2 separate regions of the Homo sapiens genome follow, and region 1 is linked to region 2. The links come from fine-mapping of genetic effects on gene expression. A gene starts in region 2. The other region holds a variant in brackets. All regions are shown on one strand. Distances are between the middles of the regions. Region 1 overlaps LOC124901774 (a long non-coding RNA gene). Region 2 holds the start of GIMAP5 (GTPase, IMAP family member 5).

What was found. PIP is the estimated chance that this variant, and not a neighbour inherited with it, causes the effect. A credible set is the group of variants that fine-mapping cannot tell apart.
Region 1: its variant is the best candidate, but not a certain one, in a credible set for the expression of GIMAP5 in whole blood (TOPMed, PIP 0.83).

What each region holds. Positions count from the first base shown.
Region 1 is chr7:150,679,068-150,681,975 of GRCh38, forward strand. All of the region lies in intron 2 of LOC124901774 (a long non-coding RNA gene), which reads right to left. Among named protein-coding and RNA genes, the nearest start is that of GIMAP2, 5.2 kb to the right of the region's middle. The variant C/G (reference allele first, on the strand shown) is at 1,643.
Region 2 is chr7:150,735,703-150,738,610 of GRCh38, forward strand. GIMAP5 (GTPase, IMAP family member 5) reads left to right here and starts at 1,716. Exons shown (of 3, transcript NM_018384.5): 1 at 1,716-2,006. It overlaps GIMAP1-GIMAP5 (GIMAP1-GIMAP5 readthrough), which reads left to right. Exons shown (of 5, transcript NM_001303630.2): 3 at 1,803-2,006. RefSeq lists enhancers at 1-837, 1,713-1,792.

The sequences.
Region 1 (2,908 bases), 57 kb before region 2:
GTAGCCTAACTGGGAGGCATACCCCAGGAGGGGCAGACTGACATCTTACACGGCCGGGTACTCCTCTGCAACAAAACATCCAGAGGAACGATCAGGAAGCAGCAATTGCGGTTCACCAATATCCACTGTTCTGCAGCCACCGCTGCTGATACCCAGGCAAAGAGGGTCTGGAGTGGACCTCCAGCAAACTCCAACAGACCTGCAGCTGAGGGTCCTGACTGTTAGAAGGAAAACTAACAAACAGAAAGGATATCCACACCAAAAACCCATCTGTACGTCACCATCATCAAAGACCAAAGGTAGATAAAACCACAAAGATGGGGAAAAAAACAGAGCAGAAAAACTGGAAACTCTAAAAATCAGAGAGCCTCTCCTCCTTCAAAGGAATGCAGCTCCTCACCAGCGACGGAACAAAGCTGGATGGAGAATGACTTCGACGAGTTGAGAGAAGAAGGCTTCAGATGATCAAACTACTCCGAGCTAAAGGAGGAAGTTCGAACCCATGGCAAAGAAGTTAAAAACCTTGAAAAAAAATTAGATGAATGGCTAACTAGAATAACCAATGCAGAGAAATCCTTAAAAGACCTGATGGAGCTGAAAGCCAAGGCACAAGAACTACATGATGAATGCACAAGCCTCAGTGGCCTATTCGATAAACTGGAAGAAAGGGTATCAGTGGTGGAAGATGAAATGAATGCAATTAAGTGAGAAGAGAAGTTTAGAGAAAAAAGAATAAAAAGAAATGAACAAAGCCTCCAAGAAATATGGGACTATGTGAAAAGACTACATCTACATCTGAATGGTGTACCTGAAAGTGACGGGGAGAATGGAGCCAAGTTGGAAAACACTCTGCAGGATATTATCCAGGAGAGCTTCCCAATCTAGCAAGGCAGGCCAACATTCAAATTCAGGAAATACAGAGAATGCCACAAAGATACCCCTCAAAAAGAGCAACTCCAAGACACATAATTGTCAGGTTCACCAAAGTTGAAATGAAGGAAAAAATGTTAAGGGCAGCCAGAGAGAAAGATCCGGTTACCCACAAAGGGAGGCCCATCAGACTAACAGTTGATCTCTCGGCAGAAACTCTACAAGCCAGAAGAGAGTAGGGGCCAATATTCAACATTCTTTTTTTTTTTTTTTTATTCACCGTGAAATTATTTATTTATTTATTTATTTATTTTTTATTAAAGAAAAGAATTTTCAACCCAGAAGTTCATATCCAGCCAAAATAAGCTTCATAAGTGAAGGAGAAATAAAATACTTTACAGACAAGCAAATGCTGAGATTTTGTCACCACCAGGCCTGCCCTAAAAGAACTCCTGAAGGAAGCCTGAAACATGGAAAGGAACAACCAGTACCAACCACTGCAAAAACATGCCAAATTGTAAAGACCATCAAGGCTAGGAAGAAACTGCATCAACTAACGAGCAAAATAACCAGCTAACATCATAATGACAGGATCAAATTCACACATAACAATATTAACCTTAAATGTAAATGGGCTAAATGCTCCAATTAAAAGACACAGACTGGCAATTTGGATATAGAGTCAAGACTCATCAGTGTGCTGTATTCAGGAAACCCATCTCACGTGCAGAGACACACATAGGCTCCAAATAAAGGGATGGAGGAAGATCTA[C/G]CAAGCAAATGGAAAACAAAAAAAGGCAGGGGTTGCAATCCTAGTATCTGATAAAACAGACTTTAAGCCAACAAAGATCAAAAGAGACAAAGAAGGCTATTACATAATGGTAAAGGGATCAATTCAACAAGAAGAGCTAACTATCCTAAATATATATGCACCCAATACAGGAGCACCCAGATTCATAAAGCAAGTCCTCAGTGACCTACAAAGAGACTTAGACTCCCACACAATAATAATGGGAAACTTTAACACCCCACTGTCAACATTAGACAGAACAATGAAACAGAAAGTTAACAAGGATATCCAGGAATTGAACTCAGCTCTGCGCCAAGTGGACCTAATAGACATATACAGAACTTTCCACCCCAAATCAACAGAATATACATTTTTTTCAGCACCACACCACACCTATCCCAAAATTGACCACAGAGTTGGAAGTAAAGCCCTCCTCAGCAAATGTAAAAGAACAGAAATTATAACAAACTGTCTCTCAGACCACAGTGCAATCAAACTAGAACTCAGGATTAAGAAACTCACTCAAAACTGCTCAAATACATGGAAACTGAACAACCTGCTCCTGAATGACTACTGGGTACATAACAAAATGAAGGCAGAAATAAAGATGTTCTTTGAAACCAATGAGAACAAAGACACAACATACCAGAATCTCTGGGACACATTCAAAGCACTGTGTAGAGGGAAATTTATAGCACTAAATGCCCACAAGAGAAAGGAGGAAAGATCTAAAATTGACACCCTAACATCACAATTAAAAGAACTAGAGAAGCAAGAGCAAACACATTCAAAAGCTAGCAGAAGACAAGAAATAACTAAGATCATAGCAGAACTGAAGGAAATAGAGACACAAAAAACCCTTCAAAAAAATCAATGAATCCAGGAGCTGGTTTTTTGAAAAGATCAAGAAAATGATAGACCACTAGCAAGACTAATAAAGAAGAAAAAAGAGAAGAATCAAATAGATGCAATAAAAAATGATAAAGGGGATATCACCACCGATCTCACAGAAACACAAACTACCATCAGAGAATACTACAAACACCTCTACGCAAATAAACTAGAAAATCTAGAAGAAATGGATAAATTCCTCGACACATACACTCTCCCAAGACTAAACCAGGAAGAAGTTGAATCTCTGAATAGACCAATAACAGGCTCTGAAATTGAGGCAATAATTAATAGCTTACCAACCAAAAAAAAGTCCAGGACCAGATGGATTCACAGCCGAATTCTACCAGAGGTACA
Region 2 (2,908 bases):
AAGTGAATTTGCTACATTGATGGGAATGGTTAGCTTCGGTGCCCCTCACTGTTTATAAGATTTTGATGTGAACTCTGTTGGTCAAGTTTTTGAAAGATTCCAGCCAGGTGCTGGGGGAGTACCTGGTCCCTATCTAGCAAGGGTGAAATCCTGGTCAGATTACAGCCCACTTTCTGCCCTGCTCTGCTCAATTCACATAAATTATGAGTGCTGACTAGGTTGAAAGTCCTTGAAGAATTTAAAAATGTAAGGGCGAATAAAAATCAAAAATAAGGAGAAAACATTAATTCTCTTTTCTGGGGAAAAAACAAAGTGGAAAAGAATTACCCCTCCCTTCTTAGAGCATTTTCTTTAGAAACCTTGTAAGTGTGAAATCTTTCTCTACCCTTTGTAATGCAAATCTTTTTAAAAGCTGTTTGACAGCCCAGGGCTGTCTGTAGAGCATCTGGAAGCCATCCCTTTGAAATGCAAACATCAAGGAAGGTAGCGTCCCCACCTCCCAGTCTCTGTGTGAAAATAGGGGCCTAATTTAGGAGCCTAACTTAGGTAGGAGCCTGACATCTGCCAGCACCTTTCTGAGTTGCAAATCTTCCTCTTGCCATAGAGGATGTGAGAAGTTTACTTTTCCTCTGGAAAGACAATTAGCCAACACAGATGATTACTGAGTGAATTTAGGATGAACTATGCATGTCAAAGGGTGCTGTCAAGTCCTCTTACTTGAGGATTAGTTATGGTTTAACTTGAGAACACGTGTGTAATAGGTGGCACCTGCCTGGCTGTATAACCAGGTGGCATCCCTCTCCGTCTTTGCAATCTCTTCCTGGATTGTCTGGGATCCAGATCACATTCTGGTTCAATGGACATTCAATAATAAAATTGTTTTCTTTCTCTTCTGCCTCTGTGGAGAGGTTTTCTGGGCTAGCAGGAGATTGTTTAAAATTGTTTTCCCATCAAGTCTTAGACAATTGTTACCATATGACTGTAAGCCCCACTTCAAATGTCAACAGAAAAGGATATGGGGATTCTCTGGGCCATGACGGCCCTCCGCCTAAGTCCCACTGTGTTCTCCATCGCATAATTGCCTTATGTCCACTGCCCTAACCTTAAATGGCAATCAGGTTTATGTCCACTGCCCTAACCTTAAATGGCAATCAGGTTTATGTCCACTGCTCTAGCCTTAAATGGCAATCAATTCAAAAATAGAGGTTCTATCACCCTGCTTTCAACCCTTACCAGATAAACTGACACGTAGACTCCACAATGTCCCCACAGGGTGGGCTCCATCACGTGCCAGACAGCTTACCAGGGTCAGTCACGAGCCCAGAGTCAAACCCTGCAAGGGCTTGTTCTGGTCCTCTTTGGACCAGAGTGCCTTTCTGATCCTGGTTAGCAGAAACTTTCCAGAAGCAGAGCCTGTGAGAAGGGGCCCAAGAGTGCTGGGAGGAGAAGGTGCCCCGGTGATGGGTGCTGAGGGCAGCAGCTGCTGCCCAGAACTTTCCAGTCACTAGGGACCTTTTCTGAACTTGGAAGTGGGAGAGTCTGTAATTCCCTTCATATCTCCTTCTTCCAAATACTGCTTGCTTGAAACAGTCAAAAAAAAAAAAAAAAGGAAATGGGATGGGGCACACTGTCCCAGGGCAGGCTCATGACAGGAAGTGACCCGTTAAGGAAGCAGCACATCGCTGCATTCGGCTGGTTTTCAGGGTCTTGTTCCCAATCAGTTTCCAGCCAACACCAGGGTGTCCTAGTCCGCAGAGGTGTGGGGGACACACTCCATAATCTCTACTTTTCTTTTTGTGCAGCTGAGTCATGGAGCTTTCAGCCCCAGCACATGGCTCCTCCTTAACTGCGTCTGCTCAACCTCCCTCAGCCCTGTGAACAGCATCCCCGCACACAGACGCAGAGCAGGACTCTCTCTGCTGCCACTTCACCTTCCTGAGAGAGGACCAGCGGCCAGAGCCTCAGTGACTGCCACCCTGGAGGACAGGGCACAACAACCGTTTCTGGTAAGGAGAACTGGGTTTATGCTCACAGAGACTTTGGGAATTGAAAGGATCACAGTTTGGTCACAGCTGTTCATTTCTGACATGACCTTGCACAGATCCCCTCACTTCTGGGTTCGCTGGTCAGTAAAACGGGGCAATGGTGATGAGTGTTGCGGGCATCAGCAGGTGCACAGCTGGTGGAGCACAGCCTGAAGAATCTGTGCCTGCACTCACAGCCCAGTCCCAGGACAGCGGGCTTTGCTGCCCCATTGCCCATTACTTAGCCAAGTCGATCTCCATGAAACTCTCAGGGAGTAAGGCTGAACTGATCCTCTCATCAGTGGGACAGATGGGAGAACTGAAGCTCCCAGAGGGTGATAGGCTTTCCCCCATCTCCCCTAGCATGCCGGGGCATTCTTCTCAATTTTACCCTCCTAATTTCTCCTGTCCCAGACCAGCCAGACACGTACCATGTCTCAGACAAGCCTGGGAGCTGAGGATGGATTCTTAGGGCTCCCCAGGGCAAATGTGGGATATTTTCCCACCCCAGGAGCCTCATGTTCCAAACAAGACCCCTGAGTGGACCTTGTCTTGTGACTTTCAACTTCTGAAAACTACCCCATGCTCCCCCAGATGCCCCACATTTTTCCTATGACACCCTGCCGGACGCACACCAAACCGCAAAACACATGATTCCAATACCTGGAAATACATGGGCTGGGGCAGATGGGTGAAGGAGATACTTATGAACAAGGAAGACAAGAAGTGGTTTGATCTTTTCTAAAATAGTATGGAAGAGGCTGCTTTCTTGTAATTTGCTAAAATAAGCTCTTCTCATGGTAAAATCAGGTTCATGCAATTTTCAAATCGGAATGTGCATTTTGTTCATTTGCTTCACCCTTTTCCCTGAGCCAGACCCTCCC